Linked DNA regions of Homo sapiens: region 1 is linked to region 2. Evidence: fine-mapped expression QTL. A gene starts in region 2. The other region holds a variant in brackets. All regions are shown on one strand. Distances are from middle to middle. Region 1 overlaps IMMP2L (inner mitochondrial membrane peptidase subunit 2). Region 2 holds the start of LRRN3 (leucine rich repeat neuronal 3).

Region 1 (5,399 bases), 76 kb after region 2:
ATATAGTATATATTATATATTATATAGTATATATTATATATGCATATATAAACTATATTTATATAATATATATAATATATATATTTTATATATAAATATATATAAAATTATATATAATATAGAAATATAATTTATATATTATATATGTTTAATATATGTATATATGCACATAATATATATGCATTATATATATGTATATATTATATATAATATATAGTACATATATACATATATGTATATGTATGTATTATATATTATATATACTATATATTATAATATATAATATATACATATATAATATAAAATACATAAAATATATATTATAAAATATATAGTATAAACTACATAAATATATATATTTATTATATATAATTATCTGAAATATAATGTAAAATATATATTATATAAAATATAAATATATAAAAATATATATCATATAAAAATATAAATATATTAATTTATATATAAATTATTATATATATAATTACTGGACTTTTTTTCAAGTTTGACAGGGAAGGAAGACAATATTCAAGTAACATCCATGTAGCTAATCTTCATTCTATATTCTTATCTGAGTTTAACCTAGATGAAACACAAGGCTTTTAGTGCAAAGTGAAGACGTAGTTTTAATTTTAGATGTTGAGATAAGATGTCAAAACATCTTACTCAAGCTGGCTGATACATATAGTTGTTTTTTGCAATGCACACTAAATCTCAGGCAAGAGAATTTCATATTTTTATCCTTGAAATTTTCTGGCATTATGCCATTGTTCTTAGCATAACATTATTAGTGCTACATTTTAGTTTGTTGTCTGAGGATTCCTAGGGAGTTGAATGCATTGGATCTAAGAAAATAGTTGTTGAGATATCTGAAGGAACTACTTTATAATATTTCTTAAGAGTGTTTGAAGTGGGGAATTGCTTAAGAGTCTTTGGTGTTTGAGAGAGGCTATATAAAAGGCAACACAAGTGTGTCAATCACTAGCATCGAAAAGTTTTTTTTTTAAATCATTCAATTCAGTGGTCTTAATATATTCACAGAGTTCTGGGACTGTCCGCAATATTTAATACAAGAATATTTTCATTACCCCCTAAAGAAACCCTCTACCTATTAGCATTCACTCTCCATTTACCGCCAGTTTCCTCAGCTCTAAGCAACTGCCAATCTACTTTCTGTCTCTACTGATTTGCCTGTCTTGGACATTTCATGTAGATAGACTCAAACAATAAGTGGCCCTTTTTTCTATTGTGGTGAAAAACACAGCAAAATTTACCCTCTTAACCATTTGCAAGTATACTTTTTAGTAGTGTTAAGTATATTCACGTTGTTTTAAAACAGGTCTGCAGAACTTTTTCATTTTGCAAATCTAAAACTCTATGCCCATTTTAAAAAAGCTCCCTCTTTCCTCCTGTCTCTTGCCACTGGTAACCACCATTCTACTTGCTGTATCTATGATATTAACTAGTTTAGATACCTCATTTAAATGGAATCATACAGTATTTGTCTTCTTGTGACTGACTTATTTCACTCAGCATAACGTTTTCAAAGTTCATCTATGTTTTATTACATGATAGGCTATCCTTCCTTTTTAAAGCTGAATAAGATTTCATTGTACGTACATATCACATTTGTTTGTCCATTCTTCTGGTAATGGACATTTGGGTTGCTTCTGTCTCTTGGCTATTGTGACTATTGCTGCTGTGAACATGGGTGTGAAAATATCTCTTTAAGACTTTGGTTTTCATTCCTTTGTGTATATACCCAGAGATGGCATTGCTGAATCATATGGTAATTTTAATCTTAATTTTTTGAGGAACCTCCTTACTGTATTCCATAGAGGATGCACCATTTTACAGTGCCACCAACAGGGCACCAGGGCTCCAATTCTCCACATCTTTGACAACACTTATTATTTTTGTGTTTTCTTTTGTTTGATAGGTGTGATCCTAATGGGTGGGTGTGGGATGATATCTCACTGTGGTTTTGATTTGCATTTTCACAAGCTTGTTGGCCATTTGTATGTCATATTTGCAGAAATATCTATTCAAGTCCTTTGCCAATTTTTAGATGGCTTATTTGGTTTTTTGTTGTTGTTGCATATAAGAGGTTTTTGAATATTCTTTATATTAGCCCCTCATCAAATATATGATTTTTTTTCCCATTCCATAGATTACCTTTCACTCTGTTGACTGTGTCCTTTGATGCACAAAAGTTTTAAAGTTTGATGTAGTTCCATTTGTCTGTTTTTGCTTTTGTTGTCTGTGCTTTTCATTTCATATCCAAGAAATCATTCCAAAAGCCTTTTAAATAGTCAACTTATGATAAAAACAGAGTTCAGTGATTCAAAGATTAATCCAGGAGTCATTTATATTTGCATTTAAAATGTAATTTGTACATACATAAGTGTGTGTGTATGTGTGTGTGTATATATATATACACACACAATTTTTTTTTCTTTTGACACAGAGTCTCACTCTCCTGCCAAAGCTGGAGTGCAATGATGCAATCTCGGCTCACTGCAACCTCTGCCTCCCAGGTTCAAGCAATTTTCGTGCCTCAGCCTTCTGAGTAGCTGTGATTACAGGCATGCGCCACAATGCCTGGCTAATTTTTGTATTTTTGGGGTTTTGCCATGTTGTCCAGACTGGTCTCAAACTCCCGGCCTCAAGTGATCTGCCTCCCTCGGCCTCCCAAAGTGTTGGGATTATAGGCGTGAGGCACCACACCTGGCCTGTTTGTACTTATATTTGATTATGGATATGCCTACTTTTCTGAAAAGTAATTGCCAGCAAAATAATGAAGTTTTGCTGTGAATATATGACTTGAGAAGCTGGAAATATGTCCAGTTTTCCTGACTTGACCCCTAGGTCAAGACCTCCTTGATATGAGGGAACTTTTTACATGTTTGTCTTTCAAAGAATTTTCTTGGTAAGATGAAAGCTATATGAGGTGGTAAACCAGACTTGTTTTTTAAAAAAGAAAAAAAAAATAAGCAGTCTACTTAATGTTTAATCAAGATATACCACAGATAAACTAAACGAATAAAAGATATACATAATTAAGATTTTACTCTATAATATTGCCTAAGTTACAGGGAATCATTCTACTTCACTGTAAAATGAATGATTTTTTCCACTTGTAGGCAAGGGGCATATATGGGAGTTTGTATGTGGGAGGAGTTAGTTTGGAGTGATGCCTGTGAACATAACCTGCTTGCACTCAAATCCTCCTCTTCTCCTCCTTCTGTGTTCCTTTTTATGTTGAATGGCTTCCTGTTCACCCACTTACTAAAACAGAAACTTGCACACCCTCCTTCC[G/A]TTTTCATCTCCCTCACACCTCCCATCCAGGCAGTCACCCAATTCTTTCAGTCTTACCTCGAAAAGTAAGCCTGTTTCTTTCTGTCCTTATTGCTACTTTCCTTGTGCAAGACTTCATGTTCTGCCTTAAAGTGTTGTAGAAGCCTTTTCATTGGCCAGCCTGCCTGCCTTGACTTGCCTCCTTCAGTCAGAAACATATTTATAAAATATGATTTGCTCATGTCTACCTCTTACATAAAACTCTTAAGTGGTTCTCAATTGCTCTTAGTACTAATACTGAAGTTATTATCGTGGCTTATAAGGTCTTTTGCAGTCTCACACATGTTTACCACAACAGCCTCATCTGTCCTTAGGTACTTTTCCCTTATATAATCTTTATCTAGGGGTCTTCTAAGGCCCTCTCTCCTTGTTTGTTTCTCTCAGTGGATTGTGGGGTTCATGAATTTAGGAATCATACCAATCTAGCTCACTGCTATAGTTCTTGTACCTAGTGCAATGTATAATACGTCAGGTATGCAGTACAATTGTGCTGAATGAATGAAAGCTGCAGTGCACATAAGCTATATGGAAGCCCTTCCTCTTCCTAATTGCAAATTTTCTTACAATAATTTAGGATGTTCGTTATTTTCTAACTCCCAACAAGCTTGAACAAGTTCTGAAAAAATAAGATACAGTGAACCCTCTCAGCTTTCATTTCCTCATCGGCAAGTTAGGGGCTAAAGCCTTTACTAATAAATCTGTAAGCTAAAGTGATTGGACCCATTCATCTCTGAAATTTCTGTTCTGTGATCCTATAAACATGTGTCCACCCTAACTTACCTAAAACTCCAGAATAGCTACCACATATGTAATGTATAAATAGTCGCTCTAAATCTATATTTATTGGCCTTCTAAAACATAATTTCTGTTAAGGTTGGTTTAAATTTTTTTAAAAGTCAGGATTGTGTCTTTATCAACTATGTTTCATTTGCCCCTATGTTAATATCATATATAAATATTACTATATGTGAATTATTTCATTGTAAATTGAAAAAGTATAATGTAGAGGAACTGAATGCATTCATGTTTATTTGCCTAGGTGAAATTTATATTTGTTTTTATTTTATTGGCTGCATTATTATGAAATACTGTTCGCACTATAGTGAGTCATTTCTGAAAGTAATTGCAACATTGTATGAGGTACTCAAACTCCTTAAAGGAAGAATAACAATATAAATTCAAAATGATAATGGAAATAATTGCATTGTTACTCTGAAAACTCGTGCTTGGACATCTCATCAGAAATGGTGCATATGAAAATTAGCCATATCAAATTTTACCTGAAATAGCCATAGAAATTTATTTTATCCCTGTACCTTTGATCTGCATTACATTTCAGCTCCTCAACTAATAGAATTCTCTCTCCCTGTACCTTTTTTCCCACTCGAACTCCATAAATATCTGTTACTCAATATAGACAGGGGGATGAAAATGGACATACTTACCTTCTCTTGCCTTCCACACATGAGTAGAAATGGTTCTGGAAAAGTGGGCTCCAGTAATATGCTGCCCAGCTGTGAAGTCCCAGAGAGAAATACAGGATGGCAGGAAATGGCAATGTCATAAGAATTTTGTGCTCGCTCTCCTACCAGAGCCATAGCAATTTCTAGCTTAGGGCATACCCTTCCCCACCCAAGGCACATTTTCTTCCTGGTGAGAATTGATTCATAGCCTATCAAAATCACACAAGTAAATGAGTAATTTATTTGTTTTCATTTGTTTATTCACTCATATAGAGAAAACACTCACTGACACTCTTGTCAGTTGTTGCCGTCTTCAGTGCAGCATGGTTTCAGAATTCGTTCCTTGCCCAGTAGCAAAGCTGCAAACTCTCACATCATATTGGCTAAGGGTATGATTACTCAGCTATAAGAAATGATCCTGGTCCAGAAAAGAAGGCCACAGGCTCTCCATTTATTGCCTCCCTCCCCCTTAGACTTCATTTCAGAGTAATGACATAGTAAGGGGACTCTTTTCTTCAGAAAATTGTTTTTCAAATGCACTGCATTCCTGAAGGAAACTATCTGTTGTGCATGCATTTT
Region 2 (5,399 bases):
TTTTTTTTATAGATTGCATGTGGCATTTGAGGCAGAGCGAGCAAAGCTGCCAATATTGCAAGCTGATGCTTCAGCACCTTTCATTTTTCTCTGAGCAGGAACCCTCTTCTTAAACTTGTTCATCTTACAGAGAGAAAATCGAAGCCACTGGCATATTGTCAGAGCTGCTTTATTGTCATCATTTACAAAGGTCACTGGAATTAATTGACTTCTTATATTACATGTTGTAAACTGACTCATTTTTTTGACACATTTATGGGAAAGTGGCAGGATCTAAGTGGCTGGTTATTGTCTTTTTGCTTTGGCTTATATTACAAACTAGGAAACCAATAATAGCTCTGAAATCACAGTTGTGGAAAAAAATAACCCACAGTTTCAAAGAAGCTGACTCTGTTAACTGTGTGGTTAGTTGAACTAAAAGAAGGCAGGAGAGAGCTCCAGAAGATGAAATACAAATGCTAGGTTTCTTTTACTGTCTTTCCAGGACCCAGTAAAGAGGGCAGTGAATGTTTCCATGAATATCCTCAATTGGTGTTGTCTGTTTGAAAGCATATTCTAAGTAGCTGGCTTCCCTTTACAAGATTGGAAGTAAAAATTAACCCACACTGAATTCCATGAATCATCAATACATGGATGCTCATAGAGTTTACTGAGAGTAATTCTGTCTCAAAGGCATTGCTTCTGAAACTAAAGATGAGAAATATATCAGTAATATTTATGGTACCAGAGCACACTATTTTCTAGGTAGATATTTTGAACCTTTACTTCTATTTTTGTTTTCACATTATCCCCTTTTCACTAAATTAGGACGGTTCTACTCATATTCATAGCCTGCTTTCACTGAAATTAGAGGCAGAGAAACAAGGACATATTGTTAAAAATGAATAAATTAGAGCCGAATTAAGCCATCCAGCTCAACAACAGCAAAGGGAATATAGCAGTTGGTTAGAACAAACAATTTTCTTAAATAGGAAATGTACTTTAAAGCCATCCTGCTGTGATCCTGTTAATTACCAAAGATTAGAACTCTTCTGGTTCATGGGATCCTTTCACCTAGTGTGTGGCAGTTCCAGCTGCATTAGCAATCAGACATTTGCACTGTCCCTTCAGACCAGCGAGGGGATGTTATTAAAGGGAAGTCATTTACCCCAGTCCGTAAGATGTAGCCTGGCAGAAATTCAATAACTGTTTGTGATATGCTCATTCTGCTACTCTGCTTAGTGGTTTAGCTCTTAACATACAACAGCATTTGCCTTAATTTGCATCCACTGGATGAGACAAAATAAAAATGCCCCATTTGGTGGGTTGATTTCAAAACAGAGAATAATGTGTGATCTGCTTTTCACTACAAATAATGTGAAGAAAAAGGAAAATTGCACCCCATCACCCGTGACTCTCCTCTCCTCTCTGTCTCCTCTCTGTCTTCTCTCTTCCCCATCTCCTTCTCTCTCCCTCTCCTCCTCTCTTCTCCCCCACTGTTCCCTTCTCTTCTGTCTCCCTCCTTTTTCTCCTCCCCCCAACACTGCTTTTTCTCTCCCACTCACATCCTCTAATGGGCATTCAAGCTAGTAAAATGCATGTTGGAGAATCTCACAAACACAGCTAGGCACACACAGAGCCAGCTGGGTTTTGCATGTGAATTTCTTCTCAAAAGTGCAATAAAAGAAAAATGCTCTTAGAATTCAGACAAGAAGAAGACATCAAAGGAGGATTTAGGTGTAAAAACATGATCATCGAAGAGACAAGAAATAGAACGTATTTTAAAATATATGTGTATTTTAAACTTACCTTGAAAAGCAGTTTCAGTGCTAGCCCACCTCCGATGTCCTTGCGTGCTGGATTCCTCAGTTCCTTGGTTGAGATAATCACATGGTTGTGTTCTTGCCCGGTATAAATAGGTGCATTTGTGTGTCTGTGTAACAAAGTGTACAAAATATATACTATAGATATGCACACATGCACGCAATCTTATCTCTCTATTTTAAAATATAAAGGAAGGCAGGAGGCTGCAGCCGGGATTCCTTCTTTTTCCTGGAACTCTTTTTCTCAGTCGGCAGGCTGAGGCTCTCAATCCAGTGAAGAGAGATCCTGTGAGCTGGCTTTATTTTTCCTTGTTTCCATGGTGGTTAGTGGTGCATCGTTCACCCGATCAGTTGTCACACTGACATGGTGCTGCCTGCTCAGCGGTCATTAATAACTGAACACCCTCCACTCCCCAGAGAGGAGCCAATCGCTTCAGACAGCCAAGATGTAGCACTCGCAGCTGCTCCAGTCTGGTTGGCTGAAACAAACTGTCTGTTCTATGACACTGCTGCTTAGGATACAAATAAATGAAACAGGCTTGCATGTTTTCCTAGGTATCATTTTCCTTCTTTTTTTTCCTTTCTGAGGGAATGTTGGGAATTTTTGACAAGTTTTCTCAATTTTAGGTTATCAGTCATTCAGAGAAATATGTTTTCAGTCTGCAAATAGAGAGGACACACTACTGATAAGGATTTCCTAAATATTAAAAACACCTGGTAGAGACTCAAACCTCCAACTCCGTCTCTGAAGTTCAGCAATGACTGCATTATTTAAGAAGAGAAGCTTGCAACTGTTTTGAGTGGCATTTGGTTCTCTATAGATCCTACTTAATTTAGCATATGTGCTTGGTGTTCAATAACACTTTTTTTTTTTTTTTTTTAGCAATGACATTTCTTGTCTGGATTGACCAGATTTTTAAAATAAAGCATATATTTGCCTCTCTGTAATTCACAACATTGGCATTTGAGGGGGTACTTTTTAAAAATATGTATTTCTAATTATACTCACTGACTTCTCTTTATATGATGTAATAAATCTAGGAGCTACATATGAATGGGTACATGTGTAGGTGTGTTTGTGTATCTGTGAGTGTGTGTGTGTATTTAGGATGTATTTTTTACCACTCTGGGGAAATATTTCGATTGTAATAAGTTAAATTATTTAAAAGACTATCTTTATTCTTAGGCCTATTAACTCTGAAAGGATATTTCCCAGGAAAATATACTATATAAGCCATACATGTAAAACATTTTTATTAATTACCAGAAATTTGGAAAACACAGAAACACATAGCAGTGCATATTTCTGAAAGAACATACATGAAAAATCAAAAAGCAGTTTTAAAAATGCATGTTTTACAACCTTAATTAGTATACTAGAGAAACATCTTGTTGAGGAGAATGGAACATGAGGATTAATATATCAACAGGTCAAAAGCAGGCTAGTCATGACTCCAACCCCAGTTTTGAGAGACTACCCTCTAGTGGAGTAAAGAGAAATGGCACTTATTAGATTTACTTAGGAAAAAAAAAACAAAACCTTCACATCTAATTGCTCCTTAAGTGCTTATTGACATGACATAGAACAATAGTTTGCAGTTATTATAATAATAATAATACCAGGAAAAATTTTAAACAGTAGGCTTGTCTTTAAATACTGAATATTTTCACTCTGTAGTTTTCTAGAAACAGTTCCCAAATGTTTTTTTCTATAAGAATTTATTCAAATGAATCAAAATAAGTTCAAGATAAAAGTAGCATCTCATTTAACCTAATACTTATTTCAGAATATTATTGTAAGGTTTTATTATTTACTGGATACTCTAGTATTTACTCAGAAAGCACTGAGTCAGTTCTGTATGTTAGGGATCATGGTTGAGTGTTGGGATGTTGTGTTAGAGTATATTTACATATAATTTAATGTACTTTTAATAATAGTAATAATCATCCTTCTTACCCCTTAATTTTAATCTAGCAAATCTTAGTTTCTTTAATATTCCAAATTATTTCAGTATCTGCAGGATTTATTTCCACATATGGAAGAATAATCTTAAAATTGTGATAATTATTTGTAAAAAGAGAATTTTTATTTATGCCATGGTATCTTAAGTGATTAATTTTCATTGATTGGTATTGACTGTATAATTGACAAGTCCAGTAATCAAACCAATTATAATGCACTCCCATAATGAAGGTAAGTTGTGATAGTCAGATACATGATTAAACTCCTCTCTTGGTTTTTAAATGAAACTGCAGTCATACCTAATATCTTAAATTTCAGTCTGTTTCAGAAATCAAGAAAAAATCTTTTCAGTTTTGATTCAGTTAGAATTGTTAAAGGTAGCCATTTATATGTTATCTTACATTATTTCATAGGAAGTTGTTTTAACTAAATGATCACTCTTTTGAAAGTGGGAGATCAGAGTGCTCTTCCTGCAATTGTCCTTTTAATGTAGGTACATGATAAATTTAAAATATTTTATACTCATTTTTATAAATTTAATATCATGGAGCACTAGAAATGAGATTTTAATGTGAAAGAGAAAATGACTCTGGCTTTGGATGAAAAGGATGGCGATTCTGTTCTTTGACTGGAATTTCTATCTTGTTCCAAGAGCATCAGCAGCTTTATGGAATCAGTGTGTGTTTTGGGTGTTTTTTCACTTATCAGGGCGTTCAGTCCTTAACTGTAAATATGAAATGTGGCTCTCTCCAAAGATACATGAAAAAATTATTTTGGTATCACATCTATATAATGAAGTACCATATGAAGACGTTACATTGTAATACAGTAAGGATTTTAGGGTTTTTGAATTAATACAATTGTGAGTGATCATCAAATGAGAACCATGGAATCTTAGCACACAGTTGGCACATTAAAGCCAGGATAGAGCCCCTCAGGTATTCCAGGTTTTTTCCACCATATTACCCTATCATCTACTGGATGATTGACAGGTCTCTGCTAATTCTTCTTTTCCTTCTTCTCCTTCTTTTCTTCCTTCTTCTTACTCTCCCTCCTTCTCTCCCTTCATTTTTTTTTAAGTTTCTTCCTTTAGAAGGCACTAAAGCTTCAGAGAAATTTCACATTGTAAACCACAGTATTACATGGTTGTACATGTTACCTACATTGTAGGAAATGTCTACAGGGTTTCCTAGATGAATACTGAGTTTTAATGGAAATGTATTGAAATGGTTTTAAAATGTAAATGAATAATTACAACCCTTAAATTATACTGAAAGAGTTTTGCCTTCATCATCAAATAAGAAAATATTGGGTACAGTAGATATTCACTGACTTAGTGGTTGGGATTTTTAACTTGTTTATTGCTATTTCATCAAATCCTGGGCTTTATTCGCCTGTGTGCTTTTCTTAGAAAAGTAGCCTGGACAGTCGGTAGAATGTGGGTTTTAGAGCCACAATGTCTGGGTTTGAATCCTTACCTTGCCACTTCCTAGAGACTCTGAGCATCATGTTAAGTATCATCTCTGTTAAGTATCATCGTGCATCTTGGTTTAAAAGTATTATCTCTGCATGTCATTTTTCTCCTAGAATTGTTATGAACATTAAAACAGTTAATATGTATACCGGGTTTAGAA

What was found.
Region 1: its variant is fine-mapped to the expression of LRRN3 in whole blood (TOPMed, PIP above 0.99). The same link has a PIP of 0.9 or more in blood mononuclear cells.

Annotation. Positions count from the first base shown.
Region 1 is chr7:111,011,416-111,016,814 of GRCh38, reverse strand. All of the region lies in intron 3 of IMMP2L (inner mitochondrial membrane peptidase subunit 2), which reads left to right. Among named protein-coding and RNA genes, the nearest start is that of LRRN3, 77 kb to the left of the region's middle. The variant G/A (reference allele first, on the strand shown) is at 3,319.
Region 2 is chr7:111,087,894-111,093,292 of GRCh38, reverse strand. It overlaps LRRN3 (leucine rich repeat neuronal 3), which reads right to left and starts at 2,166. Exons shown (of 3, transcript NM_001099658.2): 1 at 1,789-2,166. All of the region lies in intron 3 of IMMP2L (inner mitochondrial membrane peptidase subunit 2), which reads left to right.